Linked DNA regions of Homo sapiens: region 2 is linked to region 1. The links come from fine-mapping of genetic effects on gene expression. A gene starts in region 1. The other region holds a variant in brackets. All regions are shown on one strand. Distances are from middle to middle. Region 1 holds the start of GAB1 (GRB2 associated binding protein 1). Region 2 has its middle 38 kb from the start of GAB1.

The links.
Region 2: its variant is fine-mapped to the expression of GAB1 in sun-exposed skin (GTEx, PIP above 0.99).

Annotation. Positions count from the first base shown.
Region 1 is chr4:143,329,299-143,345,348 of GRCh38, reverse strand. GAB1 (GRB2 associated binding protein 1) reads right to left here and starts at 8,473. Exons shown (of 10, transcript NM_002039.4): 1 at 8,089-8,473. The coding sequence starts at 8,160. It overlaps MIR3139 (microRNA 3139), which reads right to left and starts at 1,889; the gene lies at 1,814-1,889. It also overlaps the pseudogene LOC124900789. RefSeq lists enhancers at 7,734-8,547, 9,457-9,666 and silencers at 8,577-8,626, 8,697-8,756, 8,857-9,156, 9,097-9,264.
Region 2 is chr4:143,290,775-143,306,824 of GRCh38, reverse strand. No RefSeq gene overlaps it. Among named protein-coding and RNA genes, the nearest start is that of GAB1, 38 kb to the left of the region's middle. The variant T/C (reference allele first, on the strand shown) is at 9,604.

The DNA.
Region 1 (16,050 bases):
AACTTAAGAGAACTACCTAGGCCAAGTATGAATTCAAAGTAAAAAGCTGGGAGAAAAGAAAACCACCATCAGAAAAGCACTTGGTAAATTTGGCATTCTTTCTAATATATAAAAATAAAAGAAAACTCAGTTTAGAAAGATGATAAACATTATTGAAACACACACTAAGAGGTGAGGAAAGAATGATTAAATGGTAGAAAAAAGTTAACTCACATTTCTCCTTCTAGAAGCTCTATTCCTTTATAACTTATATCCTTCACGTGCAGTTTGCATATAGTAGCTCTGCTAAAAACAACCACATGGAAAATTTTTGTTCCAGATAATACTGCAGGACAGGGCTTGGCAGCTACAAGTTGTAATCAGAATGCTTCAAGAGCTAATGTAACAGAGATAACAACCAAACATGCATTACAGTGCATAGTCTTAATTCTTTTTAAAAACGGGCTGGGAGAAGGTCAAAAGCTCTTAGGTTATAGTGTACTTTATTCAGTAATGCGACCTTTTAAACTAGGGAGAACTTCGCTCCTATGAATAAGTGAATTGCTTAAAAGAGAAATGATTCTTTTTTCCAGTTAGGGCATTCTTCTATTATTTAAGATGCTCAAACATAGAAGCCTAGAATGAGCAAAAAATTCCAGTTCCTAAAAATGACTTTTCTCAGCAATTCTACAGGCCTAAATTGTCATCTACAATTTATTGAGGCTCCTATAGCCATCCCACTGGCAACGGAAGAGCCTAGTTATTTAATAAATATGGAAATCCACAGTACAATGGGCCACTTTTTGCCAGGGGTAATATAAAAAAGAAAGAATGCTAATTTTATGTGTGTTATACCCCAAGAGGGGAGAATAAAGAGAACTGTGACTTGATAAGTTTTCTGTATTAGTTGGCAGACTGAGATAAAAGGAGTCACAGAAAGATCGTGACTTCAATCCAAGTTCAAATGGCAAATTCAGATGGAGCTCTAACTTGGTGGAAATTAGGCGCCATGTTGATGCGAGGAATGTGAAATGAGAGAAACCCCTCCATCCACAGGGAGAGGGGGTTTCATGTGATCCGTTGGTGTTATTCTCTCCCCCCCAACACGAGCTGGCACTCACACAGCTGGGCTAAGATGGCTTCCAAAGTCCGAAATAAGACGCTAGCCCAAGGCAGCCCTGGTCCTGCTGCTGGAACTCAGAAGCAAATGAATCAAAGGCTCTTTTATTCTCCCTCCCACCAGAACATGCTCCCTCTCTGTTGTAAACTAACTGCTTGCCAGAATGAATTACTTAGCTTAAAACAGACATAAAGAAATCTTAAACAACTCATGTCCCTTGGAATTTTAATAAGTTCAGGTGACCAAACAAGTTGTTTTGTTCATTTCTAGTTTGATGCAGAAAATTCACTTGTGCTCAGGAACCCATGAGGAACATTAGATCTTAGCAGAAACAAAAACTTCTCAAACTAGAAGATACAGCTGACAGCCAAACTCCTCACATGAAACTGGGGTGCTGGGAAGCAGTTTTTTTCATGAGGACATCTAAACTCAACACAAATCTTTGTTCTTCCTTTAAAACCAGCCCTCCCTTAAGATTTTGCTGTTGCTGCCAGCAGTACACCAGCTCTTCTAAAAGCAAAGTGTAAAATTCATTTGCGGAGTCTTCCCTGGCATCTCGTACCCCTGCATCCCCTGTTCTCACTCTAAACTTTCATTTGGCAACTAATCATATATCATAGCTCCTATAAAATGACTGACAGCTTGTCTTCACAAACAGATTAGAAACTCCTTAAGGGCAGAGAGTGGGCCTTTCCTTCCTTGCATTCCACACATGGCACATAACAAAAGCTCCTGCGATACCTGTTTATTATTCAGTCAACAGGCATCTGTTGAGCTCCTACTCTGAGCCAGGCATTGCACAGGGGCTCAAGACACAGCACCCAGCCCAGGAGCACAGCAGCCAAAGGCCCTGCATGCAGGTCTGCCTTCAGTTAAAAACCAAGAGTCCCCAAAGAATACTGCTTAAGCAGTCACTAAACTATTTAAGATAAATAGTAAAGATTTCCCCACAAGGAAGATTTATGTCCCCCAAAAATTTATGTTGCAGCTTATTGAAGAGCTCCCCATTTGTCCCTTCCACCCAAGAAAATGTCTGAGAAGAGGAACGCTAAACTGCAACAGGGCTTCTGCTGAAGATCTACAGCTCCTCCCTCCCCCATTTTACAGGTAAGGAAACTGAGGATCAGAATGGTCAAATGCTCCTGTGGGTGGGTAATGGCAAAACCAAGTAGAATCCGGGTCCTGACACTCAGTCTGAGTTTCCTTCCACTATAGCAAAACATCCCCACTAAAAGCATCAGTGGGTGCATCAAATTACATTTTAATACAAAATTCTTCAAAAGTAAAGTAGTAGCCCATCTACTACAATGCTCCTTCTGGCTGTCAGTCTCTGTAAGAAAATTAGGACTGCTGAGTACCTAACACATGTTTTGAATCTATCACCTCTGGCTGGGCACGGTGGCTCACACCTGTAATCCCAGCACTTTGGGAGGCTGAGGCGGGCGGATCACCTGAGGTCAGGAGTTCGAGACCAGCCTGGCCAACATGGCAAAACCCCATCTCTACTAAAAATACAAAAAAAAAATTTGCCGGGCGTGGTGGCAGGAGCCTGTAATCCCAGCTACTTGGGAGGTTGAGGCAGGAGAATCAGTTAAATCCGGGAGATGGAGGTTGCAGTGAGCCATGAGCCAAGATCATGCCATTGTACTCCAGCCTGGACAAGAGCGAAACTCCATCTCAAAAAAAAAAAAAAAAAAAAAAAAAAAGAATCTATCACCTCTGAAACTTTCTCAGTCTGCAAATTGTCAATAGCTTATCTACATATTTTTATGTTAAGTCTAAAATATGGGATTTTACTTACTCTCAAAAAACGCTGTGTGTTTTACTCCTTACATTTTTAAGCAGGTTATGGCAAAATACACTGAAATAACCAGTCACTTGTCAAACAGATTATCCAACTATAACTCTTGCCACTTTTTGTTCCAAGATGATCTCTTAAAAAAATAATTTTAAAGAGCCAGCAGAATTCTCAAACTACCCCCTCCAAACTAATGCACCTTCCTAACAGTAATTCTGAATCTCAAAAGGTAGCAATCAGATTTGGAGATTCAGCAAGTTGCACGTGGAGAGTTCTACACTTATCATTCAGCCCAGGCACAACAAATGAACTATCATTAACCATCATAAAGGCTTAATGTAATTGCAAGTTGATGATCTCTGTTAACAGAAAAAACATTCTTGCTACACTTGAAAAGGTAAAAACATTGGGAGTCTGAATTATGTTTACTAACATGAGGATGGCAAGAAAAAATTTCCTTCAATAGAATAATTATGCTTATTCAGTCACTGTAAGCAGAAACATCAGAATCCATTGATTGCTAGTGGTAATTGTCAAAAAAGGATAGGAAGAGCTTCTAGACATGACAGTCCTCTTTGTTGTAGTGACACTATTGAGCAGGGGTTTCATGCTTAGCACAGGTCCTGGGTTGTCCTTGAACCAAGGAGATGCTGACACTTGGCCTGCCCACGCCCCTCTCCTCCATGTCAGATGTCAGGTGCCCACCCAGTAGGAGAGGCTATTTCTGTTTCTAGGCCCATTTCCAGAACCAGGGGTGTGTTTTTGAAGTCCAGACAAGAGTTGTCCTGTTAATTGACAGCTGCAGAGCAGACAGAGAGCCCACGCTGGGTACAGATTACCTACCTAAGAACTGGCTGGGGCCTTGCTACCAGGCTGGCTGTCAGCTAACAGGCCACCTTGCTCTGGCCTCAGAAGCAGGTTCTCCTGCTGAGATTGTGCACCTGCCCAATGCTGACAGCTGGGCTATGGAGGAGCCCAAACTTAGTGTTTGGGCTTCAGGCAAGGAAGCTCCTCCTCCAGAGCGATGGTGGTAGCCAGCTGTCTTGAAACAATACTTTATTTACAGACTTGCATCTTATTTCAGCTAAAATTTCAGGTTCTGATGAAAATTTCACCATCATTTCTTTAAATAATTCTTTAAAAATCTGAGCACCATTGTTGAGTGCATACTACCAAGACTTTACTTGTTTTCTGTAATCCTAGTGACAGTAATCTGTTTATGATTCCATCAGGTCCTTAACAAAGTAAAAAAGCAGCTGTTTAATATATAACACAGCATGAAAACAGCAACACCACAGTAGCAACCCTGAAAAGAAGCATTAAAATTTTCACCTACATTTTAAGTAGATTTTAAAAACTTCCAGGAGAATGAAACACATACAAGAAAGAACCTTTTGCGAATATAGAAAAAATTAAAAAGAGAAGGAAAAGCTGGGGAATCTGCTGACTACTCTTGACTTTCATTTTTTTGTGTGTCATTCTTTAGAAAATTCAAGAAAAGCTTACACATCAGACTAACACACTAGCGTGTACAAAAAACAATCCTGCTTGAGTTGACTATGAAACAGTAAACATAAAACGGAGCTGTAAATGGAATACATTGGGGGCCATATATGAGATGGCTTTAAAGCTAAAACTAAAACAATTTAAGGCCAGGCGTGGTGGCTCATGCCTGTAATCCCAGGACTTTGGGAGGCTGAGGTGGGTGGATCACCTGAGGTCAGGAGTTTGAGACCAGCCTGGCGAAATCCCATCTCTACTGAAAATACAAAAATTAGCTGGGTGTGGAGGGGGATGCCTATAATCCCAGCTACTGGGGAGGCTGAGGCAGAAGAACTGCTTGTATCTGGGAGGCAGAGGTTGCAGTGAGCCGAGATAGTGCCACTGCACTCCAGTCTGGGTGACAGAGCAAGACTCCATCTCAAAAAAAAATTAATTAAAAAAAACTAAAACAATTTTTTTGTCACTTAAAAGCCCTTATGGATCATCTTAATCAGTGTTCGGACTACCCTATAAATGCTGTAAACAGTGAGACAACTGTCAAAGTCCCATGGGCCAAATATTTCCAAACAGAATCATGATGCTCAAACTCCCTGAAGTCTCATTTAATAATTATAGTATCAAGCATCCAAGATATCTTTTCATAGCAAATCCATTCATTACAAATCATTATCCACAAACATTTTGCCTACTGGGTGGCCAACAATGTTTCCTTTATCCAGAAAAATAAACATTCTACATAAAAAAAACAAGCATAGGAAATGCACGTATACATGTCTATATCTTTGATGGTCAAAGCTACTTTAGCAAAAACCATCTAAACTGGACAGCAAAGCCAAAAGATCAATAATCTGGGAATGTCAAAATCTTCTGGGCCACCAACCTGACAGGTAAAATACAAGCCTTATTTAACCTGACAGTTAAATAAGCCTTATTTAACTCATTACACTCCATGCTGGTTTCCTCTATTCTGACAGCCGCCCTGTCTACTGTCTTCCAGGACTATCTCCATCTACTTTATTCGTGGGTAAAGAAAACACCAGTGCTACACCAGGCAAAGAAAATCCTAGTTTCTCCCAAGCTATTAGGCACATTCATCCTCCTGTGGAAAACACAATGTAGGCAGCCCACTGTCTCTCTCAAATGTTCCCATAGTTTCAGTCTACATTGAACTTGTTCCTCAGAACAGCCAAAAAATACCCATACCACTCAACTTAGACACACAGTCATATACCACTTTGCACTGTTGGCTTTTTCACATATACTTGTCTCGTGGTCCCAAAGACTCAAAGAGCTACTTAAAGGCAAAGACTAGGTCTTACATTTCTTTAGCACTGTGCACCTGATCCATAGTCCACCTCATTCTTGTATTCTCAACTAATATTCAGAGTCAGGAAAAGTTATAATCTGAAAGGACCTTTATTTTGTTGTTGCTATTTTTGAGACGGAGTCTCACCCTGTCATCCAGGCTGCAGTGCAATGGCACAAACTCTGCTCACTGCAACCTCCACCTCCCAGGTTCAAGCATTTCTCCTGCCTCAGCCTCCCCAGCAGCTGGGATTACAGGCGTACACCACCACGCCCGGCTATTTTTTGTATTTTTAGTAGAGACAGAGTTTCGCCATGTTGGCCAGGCTGGTCTCCTGACCTCAGGTGATCCACTGGCCTCGGCCTCCCAAAGTGCTGGGATTACAGGTGTGAGCCTGAAGGACCTTTAGAGATAACCTAGTCTAAGCTCCACATTTGAAATGAACTAGGTGAGAGTCGTTAACCTTTTACAGTCCAATCAATCAGGCAGATCTGGGTTCAAATGCAGGACTGTTTTCTGTAAAATAGAGATGACACCTACCTCAGAAAACAGTTGTAATGATCAAATTATACTTTCCTTTTTGTTTTTCTTGTTAAGACATAATCTTTTTGGCTGATTTCTTTCCTGGTTAATAGTTCAATTGAATTCTAAGCCCAAGAGGCAGGGCTTTTTTCCTTTTTCCTACTGTATTTTGTGACCTTATGGTTGGTGTCTAATACAGTGCCTGGCGTCTTTTGAGTGAGCCATGAACTAACCATGTGAAAGAATGAATTAAACCTATATTATCACTTTCACGTTCAGCAAATATGTTATTCTTTAATTCCTCCAAGAATCTGTTTTTCCTAAATTGGGCCTTCTCAAAACAAATATATTTATCTCCCTACCCCTTTCTCCCTTCCTTCTCTGTCACATACACACACACACACACACCCCTACCTTTCTCTTTAGAACAGCTGGAAAAAAAAACACTGCCTCGTTCATATTTTTGGAATAAAGTTAGCATTTTTACTAGGATATTCAGGAAAACTGATAGATGGACAGGATTTGGAGGCATTACACATCTCTGGAGAGCTTTCTTATGATTTGTGGCATCGAGTCTTTCAATAAAATTACTTGTCTATAATAAATTCTGGCAGAAAGTAAATCAGAAATTCACTGGTGAGTTGTCAGTGAAGTTAAATACTTCACTCTGTGTACTTCACTCTGTTCTATACAAGCAAACAGTGACTAACAGGATTAACCTGAGCTCTAATACTGGGTGTAGATATTCCTCAACGACAAACGGGTTCCCTTCGTACAGGCATTAAATTTATATTATATTTAAGGGGGCATAAATTTTGCTTTTGCAAACACATTTTACTAGAAAAATATTTGATCCAGATGTCAGCACAAAAGTGTCATTTCTTTCCTTTGCAAGGGAGCAGCAACAAAACAACCAATGGGGAGGAAGAATAAGATCCCAGACCTCTGAAGAGGACACAGGTTTCCACTAAAGCAAGGTTGATACTTTCAAGGAATATTTTTCCTAACAGCTAAAACGGTTTAACACATAGCATCTTGTATCAATTACACAAACACCATTAAAGCCACTCTGGTTCCCTGGGAAAGGACCGCAACTGAAATCCCTTCTGGCTTCAGCTGTCCCCTCCTGCCGAGTTTGACAGCACATCCAAGGCGCCCAAACACCAGCCACTAGGCTCCCCCCCAGCGCCCTCCTCTCGCAGCAAACCGCCAAGGCTCCCGGGCCAAACTCCAAAGTCCCTCAATTCAAAACCGCGAAAATGTGAACCCTGCTAAGCAAACGGCAGGGCGCGTAATAACTTTTCTTTCTTTCCCTTTTGCGCGCGTTCGATATGCTTGTCTCTACTACCAACTCCTCAGCTCCACAGCCCGCTTCCCGCAACCCATCTCGAGGGGCGGAGGAGAGGGAGCGCCCACCAAAGAAAGGGCTAGTGAGCCCTAAAACCTCGGCAGTTTTCCCGGTGCGGGAGCTTTAGCACACATCAGCCCAATAATCAGATGCAGGAATAAAGCAGGAAGAAGGCTCCTCTCTCCATCGCACCCCATCCTTCCTAAGGAAGAAAAAAAGCATGCAGCAGGAGTTTAGCTGGACGTCTAGGTCCTTTTATGGGGCGAACAGGCCCGCAAAGCAGGCTGTCTGGAACCTGGAGGAAGAAAGTTGTCCGGCCAAGTGGATGCCTGGGCGTGAGGGAGTGCAAGGCACCCTGTCCCGAGCCCGCCAGGGGTAGGGGCCAAGGGGAAAGAGACCGGCATTCGTTTAAGAACCAGCCCCGCGCGCGGCCAGCTGCAGCCGCCGGCGAGCCGACTGGGGAGGGGTGTGGACGCCGAGGCCCGCGGAGTGGTGCCCGCAGCTCTACTTACATAACGCTTCAACTTTTTCTCCGGGGGGGACTTGCGGAGCCATCCGGAGCAGACCACTTCACCACCGCTCATGGTGCGCGCGTCTCGGGCTCCGGGCCGGGCAGCTGAGGGGCGGCGGGCGCGCTCCCGACACAGCCGACGCCTGCCGAGCGCGCAGTGGCGAGAACCTAGCTCTCCTGGTCGCGCACCCCGGACGGACTGGGCGGACAGACTCCACGGTGCGCGGGTTCCACGAGTTCGAGTCTCTCCTCTGCAGGCCCACGAACCTGAACAGAACGCGAGCCGGGGCCGCGGGCGCGCCGGCCTCCTTTCAGTGCGCCCGCCTCGCCTCCAGACGTGCCGTCTCGCCAGCTGCCTCAGCAGCGCTCGGACTCAGCGGGACTCTGCCCCGACTCGGTGCCGGAGCTTCTGTCCTTTGCGCTCCGCCCCCTAGGGACAAGACCTCCCCAGAGCGCTTTCCGAAACAGACACAGCGCTGCTCACACACACACACACACACACACACACACACAATGCCCCGCGCGGTGCCCGCTCGCCCGCCCACCCGCCCTCGGTTTCGATGCGCCCGGAGCGATCCTCCTTCCCTCTCCTCGGGGGAGGGTGGGTCACTTCGCGGCGCTCGGTGAACGCCGAGGAAAGGGGAAGCCGCGAGCCGCCTACGGGCAGCGGGCGCGGGGCTGGTCCCGGGTCACAGAGGGAGCCGCAGGGTTGGCAGCGAAGCGCGGGGCGTTTCTGAGCGGCGGGCGCAGGGAGGTCGCAGGTCAAGCCGGAGGGTGGGTCCGCTCTCGCGGCCGCCGAAGAGGGCGGGGAGCAGCAGAGGAACGAGGCGCTTGGCGGCTTGGCTCCTGGGAGGGATCCCGCTGTCCCGTCCCCTCGCGCTCCTCCCCCGCCGCCTCCCCCACCCCGGGGCTCGCGGCAGGTCCTGAGCGGCTCGGCCCCAGATCCCGATCCCTCCCTCCCTCTCCCGGCCGCCGGGCTCCTTCTTCCTCCCTCTCCTCCTCCCCTTCCCACGTTCAGGCCCGGCTCCGGTTTCTGCCCAGACTTTCTCTGAAACTCCGCCGGAGTGCTTCCAGCCAAAACAACAAGGGCCGGGGGAGGAGACGGACGAAGGGAGGGAGCAAGGGAGGGAGGGAGCGCGAGTCCGAGAGGCACCCTGGGATCTGTAGTTCGGGAAGCAGGAGCAGGGTCCTCCGCCGTCCGGCGGCCCCCAATCGGCTCCTCGCCCGGGAAGACCGCAGAGGCCTCGGCTAGGGCAGAGGCACCGGGGCTTGGGCGCGGGGAAGACTGAGGGACATTCGAATGTTCAGTCCGGGGCTTGCCATCTTGACTCAGCCCGGTGCCAGCTCGGAGCTTGTGCTGTGCTCGAGATCAGGAGTTTCGAGGGTTTTCTTTACTTGAGAGCCTGAAAGGCAAAACCGCGGGGAGACCACCATCCTGCCGGTCCCCGCCGCGCGAGATTAAAGGACAGACCAAGAGGGCGCGGGAGCTACCAGCTTGGAGGGGAGGACAGATGGGGACCCAGGGCTGGCCAGGGCTGGTCTCTGGAGCTGTTCTGCCAGAGTGATGGGGGCGCTTGGCGAGGCCAAGGATTTGGTTGGGTCCTATCTCTGAGACATTTTGAAGTCTCACACCCCTTCCATTTGTTGCCTATTCCACTTAACTTTGTATTTGTTTGAAATCTACTGTTCGGATGCTGGACTAGAAGAGGGACACTTGGCCGGGCGCGGTGGCTCACGCCTGTAATCCCAGCACTTTGGGAGGCCGAGGCGGGCGGATCAACTGAGGTCGGGAGTTCAAGACCAGCCTGACCAACATGGAGAAACCCAATCTCTACTAAAAATACAAAAATTAGCCGGGCGTAGTGGCGCGCGCCTATAATCCCAGCTACTCGGGAGGCTGAGACAGGAAAATAGCTTGAACCCGGGAGGCGGAGATTGCGGTGAGCCGAGATCGCGACACTGCGCTCCAGCCTGGGCAACAAGAGCAAAACTCCGTCAAAAAAAAAAAAAAAAAAAAAGAGAGAGAGAGAGAAAGAAGGAAGGAAGGAAATTTACTGGGTACCCTAGTTCTATTTGCCTACTTCCTTGTGTGTTTCACAATTATTATACTGGTCCTGAGTTTAACATGATTCTGTAATAAACATCTTCTCCAATTTATTTGTGAAAAAGCCCCAAAGCCAATTTCAGCAGATAATATAATCAGATAAAAGTGCTAAAAATATGACGACATAAATGAGCATTTCTGGAAAGACATAACTTCAGTCATTTTCTTATTAACACAACATTCATATTCTGAAGCTCCTCTGAGTTTGAAAATGTTAGATGATTGTAATAAGAAATTAGGTGCTGGAGTGGTGACAAGACAAAGATCCCTGCATATATGGAGGTAGTGGCATAGGGTAGTAAGCAAATAAAGAGTCAACAAAACTACAGATTGAGACTCAGTCTCAAAAAAGAAAAATCTGAAAAAGCCTGGTTCCCACTGGGGTTTAGAGACCGTCATCTTTTGGCAGGCACTTAACAGTATCACAAGGGCGGAACTTCTTGCAGATCTGGATGCACTTTTCAGGTCATCAACTGAGTAGTCGTGACCTTGGGTAAATTACACAATGTCTCTGAGTCTCAGTTTCCCGATATGTGAAATGGGAATTGCAACACCGATTTTGCAGAAGTTTAATGAGAAATAGAAATGGTAGTGTTGGCCAGGTGCGGTGGCTCACGCCTGTAATCCTAGCACTTTGGGAGGCCTAGGTGGGTGGATTGCCTGAGCTCAGGAGTTTGAGACCAGACTGGGCAACTCAGTGAAAACCCGTCTCTACTAAAATACAAAAAATTAGCCGTGGCGGCGTGCGCCTGTAGTCCCAGCTACTCGGGAGGCTGAGGCAGGAGAATCGCTTGACCCGGGAGGCGGAGGTTGCAGCGAGCCGAGATCGCGCTACTGCACTTCAGCTTGGGCGACAAAGCGAGATTGTGTCTCTAAAAAAAAAAAAAGAAAAGAAAAGAAAAGAAAAGAAAAGAAAAGAAAAGAAAAGAAAAGAAATGGTAGTGTTGGTCGGTTAGTCGGGCGCGATGGCTCGCGCTTGTATTCCCAGCACTGTGGGAGGTCTAGGTGAGCAGGTCACTTGAGGCCAGGAGTTTGAGACCACCCTGGCCAACGTGGTGAAACCCAGTCTCTACTAAAAACACAAAAATTAGCCGGGTGTGGTGGCACGCGCCTGTAGTCCCAGCTACTCGGGAGGCTGAGGCAGGAGAATCGCTTGAACCCAGGAGGTGGAGGTTGCAGTGAGCCGAGATCGTGCCACTGCACTTCAACTTGGGAGACAGAGCGAGACTGTCTCTGAAAAATAAATAAATAAATAAAAAGGAAAATGGTAGTGTTGGTTGGGCGTGATGGCTTGCACTTGTAATCCCAGCACTTTGGGAGGTCTAGATGAGCAGGTCACCTGAGGCCAGGAGGTCGCGACCATCCTGGCCAACGTGGTGAAAACCCAGTCTCTTCTAAAAACACAAAAATTAGCTGGGTGTGGTGGCGCGTGCCTGTAGTCCCAGCTACTCAGGAGGCTGAGGCACAAGAATCACTTGGACCCGGGACAGGGAGGTTTCAGAGAGCTGACATAGGGCCACTGCACTCCAGCCTGGGTGACTGAGTGAGAGTCTGTCTCGAAAAAAAGGAAAAAAGAAATGGTAGTTTTAAATATCAGGCACATATTAGATATTGTAGGATTTTTGCTGTTTGTTGCTGTATTTCTTAATGTTCTTTCTGAAACATAAACAAGCGTAATTTTTATGGCAGCTAATAAACCAAAGCACTTCTTTTTAAGTATGTGAATATAAATCATGCCACAAATCTTCCAAATGAAAATAAACCATCAAATTTGTTTTCCTCTTCTCCCATAGGCAGCATGTAGCTACATTGAGCCAAAAGTATAATTAGCATTAGTAAGACTAGTATTGTTGAGTAGTTAACTATTGGCTTTAGCAAATTTACCATTTCCTACACTCTTGTTATAAAGTTCTTTGTAAATGGAAAATTGTAATATATCTTGTATTATTTAGCTTTGGGAATTTCCACAAATTTTTTTCTTTATTTCAAATAAGGCATTCAGTTATCTCATTCCTATGTAAAAAATCTTTAAGTGTTTTTCCTATCTTCTACTGAGTTGTTTTAGGCTTGTATTTCTAGAAATTAAATCAGGGTTGAAGAGAAATTGAAGATAGATATGTCTCCATGTATATATTTTAGAAAGGAAATTTGCCTTATTTTTATATGTCATGTTTAGATTATTTGTTAAATCATATTTTATATCTTTATGCCTTAAAAGGCACGCTGGAAAAAGTTATTATATGTTAGTATCTTAAATTTTATTCATACAACGAATATTTATGGGATGCCTATTATATGCCAGTCCCTGAGGACCCAGGATACAGTAGGGGAAAGCCAGACCTGTTCCCACACTCCTCTTTCCTAGAGAAAAGCTTTTGCAGATAATTAACCCCATCATTTTGGCAATACAGTTGATAAATGCTATGGAAGAAAATATAGTGTTGTTTGGGCATATAACAGAGGATGTACCCCCCAGGAGTAGGGCGGTAGGTTGGGAAGGACTTCCCTGAGGAAAAGACTTTTTTTTTTTTTTGAGACGCAGTCTCACTCTATCTCTCAGCCTGGAGTGCAGTGGCACAATCTTGGCTCACTGCAACTTCCGCCTCCTGGGTTCAAGCTATTCTCCTGTCTCAGCCTCCCAAGTAGCTAGGATTACAGGCGTGCACCACCACGCCCGGCTAATTTTTGTATTTTTAGTAGAGGCGGGGTTTCACTGTATTGGTCAGGCTGGTCTTGAACTTCTGACCTCAGGTGATCCACCTGCCTTGGCCTCCCAAAGTGCTGGGATTACAGGTGAGAGCCACAGCGCCCGCCAGGAAATTCAGGCTTTAAATTGAGATCCTCAGGATAAGAAGAAGTTGGCCTGGTGGACATAGTAAGGGAGAGTATTCCAGACAAAAGAGAAGGTGCAGGTGTACAGGTTTTCAGGCTGGAAGGAGCATTTAATGAACTGAATGAAGGCAGCAGTGGGGTGAATGATGGAGACATTGGCACTGGCTGAGGTACAGAGGCAGGCAAGGGACAGATTGTGCAGGTCCTTGGAGATCTTCAGATTTAGACATTTTCTTGAAGCAAATGACCATTTCATCTCCTATGACATTCAAATCTATCCAAATCAGGCCGGGCGAGGTGGCTCACACCTGTAATCCCAGCACTTTGGGAGGCCGAGGCTGGCAGATCACCTGAGGTCAGGAGTTCGAGACCAGCCGGACCAACATGCAGAAACCCGGTCTCTACTAAAAATACAAAATTAGCCGGGCATGGTAGCGCATGTCTGTAATCCCAGCTACTCCAGAGGCTGAGGCTGGAGAATCACTCGAACTCGGAAGGCAGAGGTTGCGGTGAGGCGATATCGCACGCCATTGCACTCCAACCTGGGCAACAAGACGAAACTGTCTCAAAAAAAAAATAAAAAAAAGAAAAGAAAAAAGAAAAATCTATCCAAATCACCTCAAGCAATCATCTTTGTGCATTTTGTTATTCCCTTCCAGCATCCCACTTTAGCTATACATCTTTCAACTTGATTTTTCAATATCTCCCTATGTAATTATTCCTTCTTCTCAACAGCTTTTCTAGTCTATTAAGACTTGTGCTTTCCCGTGATCTATCAGACATTTCCTTTCTTCACTCCCTTCTCCTTATCCAGCTTAAATTCTGTGGTCCACATTTTCAGTAAACATTCCTATCTCACAAAACCCCAACTCTGGACAAACCTGACTGTCCTTTCTTTCTTTTTTTTTTTTTTTTCCTTTTTTGAGATGGGATATCACTCTGTCACCTAGGCTGGAGTGTGGTGGTGCTATCTCAGCTCGCTGCAACCTCTGCCTCCTGGGTTCAAGTGATTCTCCCACCTCAGCCCACCCAGTAGCTGGGACTACAGCTACACACCACCATGCCCAGCTAATTTTTGTATTTTTTTGACAGAGACAGGGTTTTGCCATGTTGGCCAGGCTGGTCTCAAACTCCTGGCCTCGAGTGATTCACTTGCCTTGGCCTCCCAAAGTGCTGGGATTACGGGCCTAAGCCACCATGCCCAGCTTGACTGTACTTTCTTCTGCACACAACCAGCCAAGTGCTGTTGGAGCAAGTCGCAGAACAGGATGAGTGACATCACTGTAAATTCATGTTCAGTGACCTCAGATAGATACAAAATTATTCTGCAGGGGCAAATCTTCATGTCCTGGGACCAGAAGTTTATATAGTTTGGGGAGTCTTTTTAACGAAAATAATGCAATTACAAATACGAAATTTGGATGAATATGTATTTAGAATGAGGAAATAAATCACCAACAAATTCCCGAAGCCCTGGAGATGCAGATGTCTTTCTTCTAAGATTTATAGGTAATTTACCAGAATCCTTACATATTCTTCCTGAGTACAGCTTGACACCCCCTCTCCACTAGGACACTCCACTTCTCCTAGAAGCTCCCCACTCTCACAAGAGGCCTGTGCAATGACAGGCCCTGAGCTGAAGCTTCATTAGCTTTATGGATGTCTCTGCCACCCAGTGACCTAGACCATTCAAGCTGCTGTAACAAAATACCTTAGACTGGGTAATAGATAAACAATAGCCATTTATTGCTTATAATTCTGGATGCTGGTAAGTCCTCCATCAAGGTACCAGCAGATCCAGTGTTTGGTGAGGGCCTGTTCCTCATAGATCGTGCCTTCTTGCTGTGTCCTCACATGGCAAGAGACACAAACAGGCTGCCCTAGGCCTTTTGTATAAGGGCACCAGTTCCATTTATAAGGGCAGAGCTCTTGTAACCTATTAGGTTGGTGCAAAAGTAATTAGGGTTTTGGACTGCGAATTTTAAATCATCATAACTAGTCTCCAACACATCTTTATTAATCAAAAGAGGAACCATAACAATCAACACATTTTTGCCAACAAGAAATAAGTTTGTTTATTCCTGTAGCGTAAAAATTCGTGCTCCAGGATTTGACGAACTCTTGGAAAGCATTTTCTGCCTCCTGCTGGTGTGGATGCATTTTACCTGCAAGTAGTTGTCAAGATACTTGAAGAAGCTTGCCAGTAGTCAGTTGGTGAGAGGTCAGGTAAATACGATAGATGAGGCAAAACTTTGTAGCCCAATTTGTTCAACTTTTGAAGCATTGGTTGTTTGACGTAGGGTCAGCCATTGTTATGGAGAAGAATTGGGTCCTTTCTGTTGACCAATGCCGGCTGCAGTCATTGCAGTTTTCGGTGCATCTCATCGATTTGCTGAGCATACTTCTCAGATGTAACGGTTTTGCCAGGATTCAGAAAGCTGTAGTGGACTGGCAGCAGACCACCAAACAGTGACCATGGCATTTTTTGGGTGCAAATTTGGCTTTGGGAAGTGCTTTGGAGCTTCTTCTCAGTCCAATCACAGAGCTCGTTGTCAATGGTTGTCATATACAATCCACTTTTCATCGCATGTCACAATCCAATTGAGAAATGCTTCGTTGTTGCATAGAATAAGAGGATGACACTTCGAAGTGATGACATTTTTTCATTTTCGGTCAGCTTATGAGACACCCACTTATTGAGCTTTTTCACCGTTTCAATTTGTTTCAAATGCTAAATGACCACAGAAGGCTCAATGTTGAGTTATTCTGCAACTTCTTATGGAGTTGTAAGAGGATCAGCTTCAATGAGTGCTCTCAGTTGGTCACTGTCAACTTCCGATGGCCAGCCACTACACTCTCCACCTTCAAGGCTCTCATCTCCTTTGCAAAACTTCTTGAACCCCCCGCTGCACCGTACCTTCGTCAGCAGCTCCTGGGCCAAACGCTTCGTTGATGCTGCAAGTTGTCTCCACTGCTTTATGACCCATTTTGAACTCAAATAAGAAAATCGCTTAAATTTGCTTTTTG
Region 2 (16,050 bases), 39 kb after region 1:
AGGAGGGGAGATGTAGATGATATTTTTTACTTACACAAATAGAAGAAAATCTTGAAAAACGACAGTCAGAATACGATTTTTTATTTTTTTATGAGATGGAGTTTCCCTCTTGTTGCCCAGGCTAGAGTACAATGGCGTGATCTCCGCTCAGTACAACCTCCGCCTCCTGGGTTCAAGTGATTCTCCTGCCTCAGCCTCCTGAGTAGCTGGGATTAAAGGTGCATGTCACCATGCCCGGCTAATTTTTGTGTTTTTAGTGGAAACGGGTTTCATCGTGTTGGCCAGGCTGGTCTCGAACTCCTGACCTCAGGTGATCCACACACCTTGGTCTCCCAAAGTGCTGGGATTATAGGTGTGAGCCACCATGCCCAGTGTGGTTTTTCTTTAGTGCTATCAAAGGTAGGGAGTGATGATTCTAGATCAAGAGTCTCAATTACCCCCATATTGAAATAGTTAGGTTCATGCAGCACCCTAGTGTTCATTTTCTTCCTCTACTGATCCCAGTGATTTTCAGATGTGCTGCTGATCTCACCGCACATGGCTTAGTTCCCCTCACTTGCCAAAATAATTGACTTGAGGCAGGATCATTTCAGCCACTTTAGGCTCCTCTCAAACCAGTGAAACATTGTTATTTAACTCTCTTGCAGGTTTACTCCAATGCAATATACAAAGTATGGCTCTGTGCTACAAATCTGTGTTGAACACTAAGTTTCCTTGATTTGTAGTGTGCTCATCTTTGGTGCTCTCACCCTAATTATGGGGTTCCTGCCTTCAGTGTTTGAATTACACACAGATGAAGACACATACACACACACACACTCAGACACACTCACACTCACACACTCACCCTTGCCCATCGCCTTGTTTAGATGCTTATTTGGAAGAACCATGCATCTACCTTGGCTTTCATTGTGATATCTCATCCAAGTCACCTGTTTAATCCTCTAATCCTGCTGTGAACTCTGAATTACAGCCCTGCCCTTGTGATTTCCTTTTTCCTAGTGGCCATGGCCCTATAACTTTGCAGATGCCTATGACCTTGTGCATAGATTTTAGGGTACATTTGTTTTTTTTATCACTTGCTTTGGTGGTTGGGACCAGTATAGGGATCAGCAAGTTTTTCCAGGTTGGGCTCAACTGCAAACATTTAGGTTTTGCAAGCCATATGGTCTCTGTTGCAATTAATCAATTCTGCTGTTAGCACACAAGCAACCATAGACAATGCATAAACCAAAAAGCATCACTGTGTTCCAATAAATCTTTATTTATAAAAATAGGCAATAGGCTGGATTTGGCCCAAAGTCTATAATTTGCTGACCCCTGGTCTAGTCTATAACTTATCTCTTTATTGCCTCATTGTTTTTTTTTTTTTTTTTTTTTTGAGAAAGAGTCTCACTCTGTTGCCCAGGCTGGAGTGCAGTGGTGTGATCTTGGCTTACTGCAGCCTCTGCCTTCTGGGTTCAAGCAATTCTCCTGCCTCAACCTACCAAGTAGCTGGGACTACGCGCATGTGCCACCAAGCCCAGCTAATTTTTGTATTTTTAGTAGAGATGGTGTTTCATCATGTTGGCCAGGCTGGTCTCAGACTCCTGGCCTCAAGTGATCTGCCTGTCTCTACCTCCCAAAGTGCTGGGATTACAGGTATGAGCCACTGCGTCCAGCCTATTGCCTCATTTTCTATTTTCTTTTTCTTTCTTTTTTGAGACGGAGTTTCGCTCTTGTTGCCCAAGCTGGAGTGCAATGTTGTGATCTCGGCTCACTGCAACCTCCACCTCCCGGGTTCAAGTGATTCTCCTGCCTCAGCCTCCCAAGTAGCTGGGACTATAGGCGCCCACCACCATGCCTGGCTAATTGTTGTATTTTTGGTAGAAACGGGGTTTCACCATGTTAGCCATGCTGGTCTCGAACTCCTGACCTCAGGTGGTCCACCCGCCTCGCTCTCCCAAAGTGCTGGGATTACAGGCATGAGCCACCTCACCTGGTCGCATTTTCTATTTTCTTACTCCCACCTCCTCCAGCTTCATTCCTTTCCCTTAGATTGCTGAGAGTAAAGTATCATGACTTCCATGTAAAATCCCAAGATAAGATACAAATCACCACTGGATAAACCAATAAAAATGAGTCTGTGTACCTGAGTAACAAGTCTGCTTTGGTGCCCATGAGGGCTTCTTAGAAGAGGCAGCACACAGATTTTGGTCCCAGATGGCTAATACTTTAATCAGATTCTATTTCGGTAATTTATGCTATTTCCTTCCTAAGAATTAGAACCTCGCCTTGGTTTTTTGATACACTCTGGTGTTAGTCTCCATTTGTTGCTTTATCCAGTACTGTTTTGTCCTCATTCCTTGCATAAGAACTCTGGATTTTGTTCAGCTATAACAACAGTGTGTGCAGGGAAGACATATCTCTCCCAAGTTTAGGGAATGCATTTTTGTCTGGAATTTGTATTGGATATGTCTGGGACCCAGTTCTAGGCAATAGTATCTGAGGGAAGTCTCCCTGGGGCTTCTAGGAATGAATTTTTCTCCACAATAGGGAAGAGAAACACAACATGAAACCCCAGCACCTTTCTCCTGGCTGTTGATTATCACTGAATGAAAACAATATTCTTGTATCTGCTGTACCCATCGCCATCTTGGGACCATGAGCGGGGACATGATCAACACTTTAACATTGGCAGAAGAAAATAATGAAAAGAATTTGTTTAGTAATAGGGTGTTTCCCCATCCTCTCTTAGTTATAGAGTATATATACCCTATATTAACATTTTAAATGCTAATGATAACCTGAGCCTTCAGCAAGTCTTAATTTTTTTTTTTTTTTTTTTTTTTTTTTTTTTGAGACAGGGTTTCACTCTGTGCTCAGGCGGGAATCCAGTGGTGCGATCTCGGCTCACTGCACCTCAACCTCCTCCTGGGCTCAGGTGATCCTCCCACCTCAGTCTCCCAAGTAGCTGGGATTATATGCGTGCACCACCACACCTCGCTAATTTTTTGTATTTTTTTTATAGAGTCAGGGTTTTGCCATGTTGCCTAGGGTAGTCTCTAACTCTGGGACTCAAGTGATCCTCCTGCCTTGCCCTCCCAAAGTGCTGGGATTACAGGCATGAGCCGCTGCCCCAGCCCTAACTTTTAAGAATTGGAAAGATTCTATTTTATTTTAACATTTTTAGAGATGGGGTTTTGCTCTGTTGCCCAGGCTGGAGTGCAGTGGTACAATCATAGCTCACTGTAACCTCAGACTCTTGGGCTCAAGCAATCCTCCTGCCTCAGCCTCTTGAATAGCTGGGACTACAGGCATGAGCCACTGTTCCTGGCCTTAAGAAATGAAAGATTTCAAATTCTGAAACACATCTTGCCCCAAGGGCTGTAAATAATGGATCCTGGACCTGTACTACAATTTGTATCCTGTGTTGTGTAATAAAATCTTATTTTTAGGGGACTAGTACCCCATGCTCCAGGAAAAGCATATTTTCCAAAGGAGAAGATTTCCTCTATCCAGCACCTCCCTGGAGTCTCTGCCTCACTGAGGTCTAGTCTACAAAAAAAAAAAAAAAAAAAAAGAAAAAAGAAAAGAAATTACTGGCTTCTTCCCATGAGAATTTAGTGGTAGCTTCTCTCTCAGTACACATTTGTTTTTATGAAGAATATCCCATACAAAGGTACAACTAACCTAAAGTCTCCTTCCTTCTTCAAGATACTGGATTGGAATATGGTGAAGCCATGTGGAGACACGGAGATCAGTGCGCCTCTGCTGCGACCCTATGTGCAAATGCTCACCAGAATATGCCATGACATTGTGCAATTTATCATTTCTCACCAAAGCTGCTCATTTCATCAAATTTCCCCCATTTGATAATAAAAAACACTGTATCTGCTTGGCCGATAAAAGCTGCTTTAATAAGGCCCATCTACTTTGGGTGGCCCACATGAACCTCTAAGGACAGTAAATTACATCTTGGAAATGCAGGCTTTTTGGAAATGTGTCTGCATCAGGACTCTGGGGGATTTAAATGCAGAGGGATTTGCAAGGTTTGCATTTTTCATTCATTAGGGCAGTGTTGCTGCCAAACTTCTCTTCCTGTTGGTCATACAGGGGGGTGGGCTCAACACAGCGGGCTGGTTGTAAATTACCCTGTGGCTTGGAGCAGCCCAAATGTAATACCAAGGGAATCATAGATTTTGGCACAAGTTTTGTGAACAATTTCTGAGAAATCCAAATGTATTGAAAAATCACATGTTTACAGAGGAATGAAACACTGAGCTTATCTTAAGTTCAGCAGGGCCAAGAATTAAGTTTGTCCTTTACCTAGAACAGTGTGAGAACCCCAGAATTAGATGACTGTGAGTACTCTACTTTTGTAGCATTCCATAGAAAAATTACTATAATTCAATGATTCTTTAGTCTTGATCTGTGATTCTTCATCTTTTCTTTTTCCTTCTTCTATTTTTTTTTAATCCTTTTGAGATTCTGAAGAAAGCTCTGGACATTCTGAAATTGCCCACAAGTACACACACAATTGTGTACACAATTTCTGGAGGTTGGCGGGTCCTTCAAGGCTTGTCCATAATTCTCAAGTTAAGAATCCCTGCTCTTTATACCAGAAGCTCCTTTTTTTTTTTTTTTTTTTTTTTTTTGAGATGGAGTTTCGCTCTCGTCGCCCAGGCTGGAGTGCAATGGCATGATCTTGGCTCACTGTAACCTCTGCCTCCTGGATTCAAGCGATTCTCCTGCCTCAGCCTCCCGAGTGGCTGGGATTACAGGCATGCACCACCACGCCCAGCTAATTTTTGTATTTTTAGTAGAGATAGGGTTTCACCATGTTGGCCAGACTGGTCTTGAACTCCTGATCCCAGGGGATCCTCCTGCCTTGGCCTCCCAAAGTGCTGGGATTACAGCCATGAGCCACCAAACCTGGCCAGAAGCTCTCAATGGCAACAATTATGTCTAATCTCTGTGTCTAATTATGTCCAATTGGCACAGCATTTCTCCTGTTTGTGCCTAATACCCCATTACATACTCAGACATTCTAGTTAGTGTTTCACATGAACTTACAATAATAAAGTTATTCTCTATTTTTATAGTGTTCTTAAAAAAATTTGAGGTGTTTGTTTGGTTACAAATGCAAGTCTGTACTTAAAATAAGTTCTGCAATGTATCATTCCCTTGATGCAGGAAAAAAATATTTTTTAAAGTTTTTGGCTGGGTGTGGTGGCTCATATCTGTAATCCCAGCACTTTGGGAGGCCGAGGCAAGGTGATCACTTGAACCCAGGAGTTCAAAACAAGCCTGAACAACAAAGTGAGACCCCCCGCACCGCCCCGTACAAAAAAATAGAAAAAAAAATTAGCTGGGCATGGTCATGCGTGCCTGTGATCCCAGCTACTAGGGAGACTGAGCTGGGAGGATTGTTTAAGCAGGGAGGTCGAGGCTATGGTGAGCTGTGATCCCACCACTTCTCTCCAGCCTGGGCAACAGAGCAAGAACCTGTCTCCAAAAAAGAAAAACAAATTTTCTCCTCTTTATCTCCAGAATTGCCCTGAACCAAGTGTATGCTTGGTGTCACTGCTGGGAATTGCCCGCTCTGTGTCTAACTTCTACTTCATGTGAATTTTTAAAGGTCCTCATCTTTACTTCTTCCCAGAACTGTGGGGTAAAACGTTCCTGCAGTCATTGCACTGAGCAATTCCAGGGAGCACCATTAACACATATGACTATGTGGACCTGAGCCTTCACCCAATATGGGTAATATCTGCCATTGTTGAATACTTACTGTGCTAAGGACATGTAGAAACATGTATTATCTTCCCAGTACCTGGCAAGTTACCTGTTGTCTCCTTATCTCCTTTATTTACTTGAGGAAATGAAGGCCAAGAAACCCAAAGTGATATGCTTGCAGACATAAAACTGTATGTTACAAAGTCACAATTTGAACCCAGACTTTTCTGACTTTAGAACCCTGAACTTATCTACTATACTAACACTCTTCACCCTGGATCTGCAGTTTTGTAAAACAAAGTCAGATTAGAGAAATGGGCAAAGAAGAGATCTATTATTCTTTCTTCTGTGCCAAGGAAAATCTCCCAGGAGATGTGTCTGAGGAGCTTCAGGAAACTGACCTGCATGCATATGAACCAGTGTCCCCACTGAAGTGCGGAGACGCACCTGGGTGCACAGCTTTTTTTTTCTTTGTTATGAACTGTTATATTTTATTTTATTTTTATTATACTTTAAGTTCTAGGGTACATGTGCACAACATGCAGGTTCGATACATAGGTATACATGTGCCATGTTGGTTTGCTGCACCCATCAACTCATCATTTACATTAGGTATTTCTCCTAATGCTATCCCTCCCCCAGCCCCCCCACCCCCTGACAGGCCCCAGTGTGTGATGTTCCCCACCCTGTGTCCAAGTGTTCTCATTGTTCAATTCCCACCTATGAGTGAGAACATGCGGTGTTTGGTTTTCTGTCCTTGTGATAGTTTGCTGAGAATGATGGTTTCCAGCTTCATCCATGTCCCTGCAAAGGACCTGAAATCGTCCTTTTTTATGGCTGCATAGTATTCCATGGTGTATATGTGCCACATTTTCTTAATCCAGTCTATCATTGATGGACATTTGGGTTGGTTCCAAGTCTTTGCTATTGTGAATAGTGCCGCAGTCAATGTACGTGTGCATGTGTCTTTATAGTAGCATGATTTATACTCCTTTGGGTATATATACCTAGTAATGGGATTGCTGGGTCAAATGGTAATTCTAGTTCTAGATCCTTGAGGGATCGCCACACTGTCTTCCACAATGGTTGAACCAATTTACACTCCCACTAACAAGGGTGCACAGCTTTTATCATTAGAGAAGGGTTGAAGATAAACTGGTGAGGGGTACATAGCATGGCCTCAGGAAAAACTGTGTAGCAAGTGGGAATTTTCGTGGGTCCCTCTAGTTTCTCTTTCATCCTTCTTACACCTGAGTAGCCCTACTCTTTTCAAAGGTGAAAGTAGGCAGATATGAGAAGTTCGGGTGTTTTTTCACCAACCTGTAAGAAAGTGGCAGCAGCTTGCTATTCTGGCTTTCATTGACAGGTAACAAAGGGTGGAACATGTGGAAAAGGATATTGAAGTTTAGAAGTTCAGAAGCTGATTCAGGGTGACATGGAGGTGGGGATACAGGAGTGGCACGTGCAAACTAGCTGAAAGGAATCACTTTCTCTTTTTTCAGGTCTGATTCATCCGGGAGGTGTCCCTGGGGACTCCTTGTTGGAGACATATTCCTTCTCTCAGGCTGAAGTATCATCTAGGTCTCCCAACTATGCTCCTTGAGCATCTCTAACTGGCCTGTTCCCTAGGATAAGCAAGAGGTCACAGGCAATGACTCAATCTAGACTAGTCAGTGAAGAAGCTGAAGAAGAAACAGGTTCTATTCAGTTTTATACTTCCTAAGTCAACCTTAGATAATAAGAATATACTACTGAGATTGCCCTGGAATTTACAATCTAACAAAGGGATAGTACAAGAGAGTTACCTGGCAGAGCCAAGGTGGGCAGGGCACACAGGACAGTAGGAAAGGAAGAGGAGGGGGATGTCTTAGAACACGCTTATTGGCAATGTCCAGGCCAGAACCACGGGCACCCAGGGCAAGCCTTTCCCTTTTTTTTTTTTTTTTAAATTCCCCAGGCTGGAGTGCAATAGCGCCATCTTGGCTCACCACAACCTCCGCCTCGCGGGTTCAAGTGATTCTCCTGCCTCAGCCCCCCGAGTAGCTGGGATTACAGGCATGTGCTACCACGCCCAACTAATTTTGTCATGAGCCACCACACCTGGCCTGCCTTTCTTTAACCTCACAGCACACCTGGAGAGGCACCAAAGTCTCCTGAAAACTGCCATGCCTTTGTGCAAACTGCTCAATGGACGGTTCTCATCAGCAGTTCAGGCCATCTGGGAGCACTGTCTCTCTCTGCCCAGAAGACTGGGATCATGTCCTCTGATGGGCAGTAGTGGCACAGAAAGAAAAAAGCCTAAGCAGCTTTTTTCTTGGGTGAGGTTGGCTGGTGGGAAAAATACCCTTGCTGTAGAACAAATTATTAAGTGACTTAGTAAAATGAAAATGCTTCTAGAGTAATTCAGGCAAAATTTAAAAATTTAGCATGGGCTGAGCGTGGTGGCTCATGCCTGTAAGCCCAGCATTTTGGGAAGCCGAGGTGGGTGGATCACCTGAGGTCAGGAGTTTGAGACCAGCCTGGCCAATATGGTGAAACCCCGTCTCTACTAAAAATACAAAAATTAGCCAGGTGTGGTGGAGCATGCCTGTAATCCCAGCTAATCCGGAGGCTGGGGCCGGAGAATCGCTTGAACCTGGGAGGCGGAGGTTGCAGTGAGCCGAGATCATGCCACTACACTCCAGCCTGGGCAACAGAGTGAGACTGAATCTCAAACAAAACAAAACAAAACAAAACAAAACAAAACAAAAACAAACAAACAAAAAAACCCCTTAGCATGGAGAACCTTCCAGATTGCTACCTAAACCTGCTTTTTGATTGAGGCTTAAAAAATATGCTGTTCTATACCATTGCCCAGAGGAGACTACGAAGCCACAGGACACTAGACCCTATTGTTGATGGTCTCTCCAGATGTTAAAAACGTCATAAACTTTAATTTTTTTTTGCACTAGATATAAAGCCTTAATATAGAAAGTGACCTACAAAGCCACTAAGCAAGTCAGCATGGGAGATGAACAAACAAGCCTGCTTGGCCGGGCTTCTGATCTCCTATTACTTCTTTTTCATCATGATGGGCCATAGCCTGTGCCCACTCTTATCCCTCTAGATGAGTATTGTCATCTCCTGGTAGGATCACAGCTAACTGACAGCAAAGTGTGAGAACATGAAACTTAACCTCATATTCAAAGAAAGGCAGGGGAGGAGTCCAGGCAGATGGGAAGTTAAAAAAACTGAAGAAGGAAATAGTCTAGAATTATTTATTTTCATTGTCTGTCTGAAATTTTCATCTTATTTCCATTGGAAAACACATTTACTGAACACCTCCTCTGCTCTAGACACTGTAGCAACCCTTTCTAAAAGTACAAGCATAAACAAGCCCTGCTTCCTTTTCTGGTAGAAGTTCTAGTAGGGGGAATCTGTTATAGAACACAAATAACTATCACACAAGGCCCATTCAGTAACACAAAGGTAATACCTGAGAGGTTCCGACAGGGAGAAATGTGCCACCCTTGGGAAGAAACAAGAAAGGGACCTTGAAAAAAGGAGCATTTCAAATGGGCCTTGAGAAATGAATAAAACTTAATTAAAGTTTAATCTACTATTAGTTTAATTAGGAGGGAGATTGAGGACTGGGAGAGTATGTGTTTGGAAGAGAAAAATGGCTTGAGCAAAGGCCCACAGACAGAAGGGCCAGGGTTAAGATGGAGAAATAGTGGGGTGGCCTGTGGGCCTGAAGTGATGGCATATATAGATGTGGGCCTGGGAGGAATAGTCTGTAATTATGCCATCACTGACATAAACTGTCCCCTATAGTAGATGTCCTAAGAGTGGTGACTGGGAAAAACAGAGATCTATATTAGGTGATAAAGAACAGATGGCAGGGTT[T/C]CGAAGCCCTGACCTACTTTTTTCTTCTTTCCACTATTCATATTTCCTCCTCCTTCTATTTTCAAACATTGTAGAAAAGGTGAATTTTTAAGCAAGGAGTGTTTGCCTAAGACCATTAAGGCAAGCTTGACCTTCTGCACCAGTAAGGGGGTCTCCATCCATCCTTCTTTAGAAAACATAGCATTGAATTTTTAAATATGCAGGCAATTTTTTTCTTAATAATAGTCCAAAGATATTTTATGTAACTTTTGCTTTGAAAGCAAATATGTAGTTTAATATTTTAGTTTCTTAAAATTGCTATGCTATACGTATTCTGATGCTAAACAAGACAGGACTTACCAGCTATTCAACAATCCTAGGCAAGTGGCATGTCTGAACAAAGAATATTTTGACTACTATACATTAAAAAAATTAGTTTCTTTTCTTTCTTTCTTTTTTTTTTTTAGACAGGTGCTTGCTCCAGCAGAGTCATTGCTGCTGGAGTGCAGTGGTGTGATCACAGATCATTGCAGCCTCGAACTCCTGGGCTCAAGTGATCCTTCCACTTCAGCCTAAGTAGCTAGGACTACAGGCACATAGCACCACACTCAGCTAATTAAAAAAAAAAACTTTTTTTTTGTAGAGATGGGGTGTTGCTATCTTGCCCAGGCTCGTCTTGAATTCCTGTGCTCAAGACACCCTCCTGCCTTGGCCTTGCAAAGTGCCGAGATTACAGGCGTGAGCCACCACACTTGGCCTAAGTTTTCTGATATGTAATACTTAATGACATATTTTCGGGGAAACTACACATTTCAATTCTTCTAAAATTTGGGCAAATCACATAGGTCTTTGAACTCTGATAGGTTTTCTTGGTGCTATTTTAGTCCTAGGTAGAAGATTATTCATGGAAATATTAAATCTTTTTATTTAGAAGAAACTGCAGCAGCAAAAAGGTTAATCAAATCAAAACCTGGTAATGTTAGATCACACTTCGGCAAACTTTCACTTTTTCTTTCTATTTTTTTTTTTTTTTTGAAGACAGAATCTCACTCTGTCACCCAGGCTGGAGTGCAATGGCACGATCTCGGCTCACTACAATCTCTGCCTCCTGGGTTCAAGTGATTCTTCTGTCTCAGCCTCCCGAGGAGATGGGACTACAGGCGCGCACCACCACGCCCGGCTAATTTTTTGTATTTTAGTAGAGACGAGGTTTCATCATGTTGCCCAGGCTGGTCTCGAACTCCTGAGCTCAGGCAATCTGCCTGCCTCAGCCTCCCAAAGTGCTAGGATTTCAGGCATGAGCCATCACGCCCGGCCTTGGCAAACTTTCATATGGGGGACACCAAGTCCATGACTGCTCCCTGACTGATTGAGAGATAAGAGTGAAACATGATAAAATCAGAAAGAAATACATCTAGAAAAACCTTCCAGTTCATGACAATTTTCAGTGTTCAAAATTCATTAAGAACTCTTCCTTTAAAATACAGATATCTCTGAATAGTTGAATCCATTTGTCATTCAAGTGGTGCAAATTATTTTACTCAGATAGCATTTTACACTCATTTCACAAATTGAGCCCAGGTATATGGAAGCATTGGAAGTACTGAAAAGAGGTTGGTGGTGAGCGTGGAAGGGTTAATTTTTAAGCAAGAGGTGTTTAAGACTAGTAGGAGGTGGGTTTCTTCTTGTACAAAGGATCTCTCCTCTGTACACTGGCACAATTACATGGTCTTTATGACATTGGATGGGAGACCACATCAGGATTCTGGAAAACTCCAGGAGTGAGAGGGGAGCTCTGATGAGGGGCTAATGTAGGCCCTGGGTGGTAGAGGAGTAGTAGAGGTACAGGAGAGGGAGGCTGGGATATAGAAAGGTTGTAAACCAACATCACCTTTTTCACAATGTTGCAATGTTGCCCAAGAACCCGGTGGTGGGAATCACTCCTTGATATTGAGAAAAACCTGCAAAGTACTTATTTCCCACTTCGTGTCTGAATGGCTTAAAATAATATAATAGTGTTGAGCTGTTTTGAACTTTCCCCTTTTCTATAGTTAATTGGAGGAATCCGGTGGAGAAGATGGTTTCTTTGCTATAAAATAGGCTCTTGTCCCTATCCTGATTCTGTCACTAATGTGTTATGTGATGTGAGGCAGATGACTTAGCCTTCTTGCTCACCCTTTTTTCCCCTGGTATTATAGAAAAGGCAATAATCTCTGTCTTGCAGTGTTAATGCAAGAACTAAATAACATATGTTTTAAAAGCTCAGCAGGATACTTTCAGTAAATATTATATTTCTTTCTCATAATGCTTAATTCCATTCATTCCATTTTGAAATTCTGGAAGGACAAGCTCACAGTGCAGAGCAGGGCATCGGGGTCATTCTTTAAATTTTTTTTTTCTTTTTTTTTTTTTTGTAGAGACAGGGTGTTACTATGTTGCCTAGGATGGTCTCAAACTCCCAGCCTCAAACAATCCTTCTGAAGTGCTGGGATTATAGGTGTGAGCCACCGCACCTGACTGAGGCCATTCTTGACAGGGTCCTCCAGGTCTCCTCAGCTGTAGCCCATTTCTCCAGGGCTCTGAAGCCAATTCATTATCTCAGGGGACCTGGGAGCAAAAGAAGAAATGGACTTTGGTTTACTGCCAACTAGAGCAGAGCCTTTCCAGAGCTCTCCCAAGCCCAAGGCGTTTCCCTGGAACTGGACCAGCCGTGGATGGAACAGGCCTGGTTTCCCTGTGTTTGGCTTGCCTTGGAATTTCCAAAGAACCCTGCCAGGATCCTGCCAGACGTGAGATGCTGTTCTCTTTTTCCTCAAAGCTGTTTATGTTAATTAATCAAGACATTTTGGAGCAGAAATCCTTCATGTAGAGGACATTTCCCACAAACATTCCACCCTGCAACACATCTTCCAAGCTAAAAATATTTTATGTGTTCTAGCCCCTAAAATTTTATAAATGACCATTCAAGATGGAAGCAGTGATGATTTGTACATATTCCTTAACTGAATGCCATTTGAAATGAAAAAAATCAATAGTAATCCCAGCAACTATCTAATGCATTATAAAATTAACTCTAGCCTCTCTAATTTGCATGGTTAAAAGCATTTTAAGTGGCCGGGCGTGGTGGCTCACGCCTGTAATCACAGCACTTTGGGAGGCCGAGGCGGGCAGGTCACTTGAGGTCAGGAGTTTGAGACCACCCTGACCAACATGGCACAACCCCATCTCTACTAAAAATAGAAAAATTAGCCAGGCGTGGTGGTGCGCGCCTGTAATCCCACCTACTCAGGAGGCTGAGATAGGAGAACCAGGAAGGCAAAAGTTGCAGTGAGATGAGATTGTGCCACTGCATTCCAGCATGGGCAACAGAGTGAGACTCTGTCTCAAAAAAAAAAAAAAAAAAAGCACTTTAAGAAACCATAAGTCTTAAAGAGAAAGATAATTGGGAGGTTATTATGTGTTGATCACTTCTGTGGATGTTTCTCTAGGATGGCCAAATAAAATGTCTGTAGTGATATTTTTATTGGAAGTGCCAATTTCTTTATTTTATGGTAAATATTTTTGCAAAGAGTTGTTCATCTGGCAAAGCGCGTGACTATAAACCTTGTTAATTGCACATCTAAGCTTAACCTTATTCTTCCACAAAAGCAATGATCAATAACTTGGTCATCATGATAGGAAGTGGAGTTTCTGGGGGAGGAGCAAGGGGGTTAACATTTTTTTCTACCCTTTGGAGGGAAGTGGGACTTATTTTGCTCTTCAGACTGTCTTTTCAATTTTGTTTTTCTTTTTTTCCCTGTGTATCTGGTGCAATGAGAGATGGGCCTGAGGTAGCCTGTCAGTTGAAAGGTGGCCCTGGGCCTTTGGAAGTCCTAGGAGGATTCAGGTAGGGCTCTGGGGAAAGGAAGGGTTGGCCAGCTGTTCTTGCCCTTGTGTAGAAGTGCATTTTCTTGGAACTTGCCTTGCCTCCTCCTGCTTCTGTAGCTGTAGGATCCTGGGGACAAGTCTTGAGTGTAGGTCTATAACAGTCATTTTCAATGTGTGGTCCACAGACTGGTGGCATCAACATCATCAGATAATTTATGAGAAATGTAAACAATTCTCAGGTCCCACTCTAGACAAACTGAATCAAAATCTCAGTGGGTGGGGCCCAGCAGTCCAACTTTTAACACGTCCTCAAGGTGACTAATGCAGAGCCACTGGCCTACAAAACTTCACCTGCTTCTAGGCTAAGTCTTAACTAGGTTAGTGGGGTTGTGTTTATGCAGCTCAACAGAGGAGGAAAGATTTGGGGTCAGAACCTCAGCTGATAATAAAGTATGTGAGCATGGGATCACTCTATGTATATGCCTTTTTGGGACCTGTAGCAAACATGTTTGGCTGAAGAATCAGGATTTTGACTCCATTTGTTTCTTGAAGACACAGTGTAGATACTAGCCATGTCTTCTGAACAGATTTGTATATTAGCAGCTGGGCCCTCTGAGCTCTAATACTACATTAACCATTGCCTTGCTAAAAGATGTTATACAAGCCATTTTCTATGCATCAGATGGGGAGTGTTTCTAGCCAGGGCAAGCCGTGGTGCTACAGTTGGGTTTGCTGTTGAGGCTGAGGCCATTTTCTACTTCTCCTGGGTGTCCAATGCCCTCCTTTTTTTACCAGTAAACTGAGACCTCTCTTGAGTGTTTCTCAGGACTTTGTCACCAACTTAGTTGGTTATTATGCTATCCATTCTAGCTTGTTCTTGCATTTAACTGGGTTTTCTCATTGGCTGACTGAAAGTGTGAAATTTTAGGCACTAAATCCAGTGGTGACAATTTCTGGGCACTGGCTCTATTCAGATTTCTCAGTCTTGTGTCTTTCCATTATCTAAGAATTATGAGGGACTGAGAAGTAATTATGTGATGAGCGACACATACAAACATTTCTTAGTTATAGACGTTAGTGCAGTTAGGAAGGCTGCAGGCTTATAAGTGAGAAACACCCAGGTTTGAATCTAGGTTCTAGCACTTATTAGGCCAATGGCCTTGAGCAAGTTGCTTAGTTTTAGTTTTCTCAACTTAATATAGAAATGTTAATTTCTACTTTCTAAATTAGAGCTAACATACTCAATGTTTAGTGGCAACTTTTACTGTTGGTATTAATAAAGTGATAGATCCAAGCTTATCTGAAGATAAGAAGTCTTTTTTATTTGACTTGGAATGAATCATATGTCTTTTTATTGTTATTATTTTTAGAGACAGAGTCTCACTATATTGCTCAGACTAGAACTCCTGGGCTCGAGTCATCCTCCTGCCTCAAACTTCCGAGTAGCTGGGACTACAGATGTGCACCACTGTGCTTAGCTCTTGAATCATGTATCTTGATATTGTTTTCCCCGTTTGATTTTGTCTTTGCAATGCAATGTTGTTTAGGCTAATATTAATATTATTCTTTAGCCATTGAGCACATACCATTGACAGGGGCCTGAAAGTTACTGGGTATAAGGAAAAGGCCAGGACAAGATGTAACATTCACTATAGGTAGCTGACAAAGTGTAAGGCTGGATAATTAAGCCCCAAATTTTTAACTGTTCTTAATCATGCTTTTAAAGAGAAGGAGTGTCTTCCCTTCATTTCATTCTGCTGTTTGCTTTATTGGGAGGGGAGTGCCTTACAAAAGGTAAGTGAGGTTGAAGAGCCTCTCTTCCAACACCTACTAGCTGTAAGGCCTGAGGCAAATTGCTTAACCTCTGACACTCATTTTCATCAGCTATAAAAATAGACTAATACCTAGCTTTCAGCAGTGTTGTAAGGTTAGAGACTCAGGTAACCCCAATTATCTGCCTTAATGGAGGAGAGCAAGAGATAATCCACAATGAATAGATTTTTCTTTGACATTGGAGGCTCTATTATTCCTTTTTCCCTGCAGATTTATCTTCCTACTACTTTGTGTAGGCCAAGATGAAAATTCCTTTAACTTGTGGAATTATTCTCTTGTATTGTTGAAATAACACTTATGTGCCAGAACTTTGCCAAGGAGATGTGCAAGCCTTTTGCAGATAATCAGGAGTTGACTGTGAAAGGTTGATCCATTCAAAGGTCATAGGCTACTGGAAATACCTCCAGTGCTAGTTTATGTACCAGCTGGTGTTCCTTCTTTGTGCCAGATGGACAGTGTGCATAGAGATGTAGAGCAGACTGAGTGGGAAGTGGCTGTGTTGAGGGAACAGGCAGACCTAGGCGGGGCCAGATAGAGCATCTTCCCATGTTGAAGGTGGCCACTTCTTACAAAGCAACACAATGACTGCTCCACAGACACCTTGAGAAAAATAAAAGGATCACTTCACTTAAATGTTTTCATTTGCAAAATAGTCATAGAGCATATGCCGTACGTGGTTGATCCGAGGATTACATGAGAGAACTGTATAGACCCAGCCTGTAGTAGATTACTTTATTGGTGGGGGTTCTGTTTAAATCCTTATTGGCC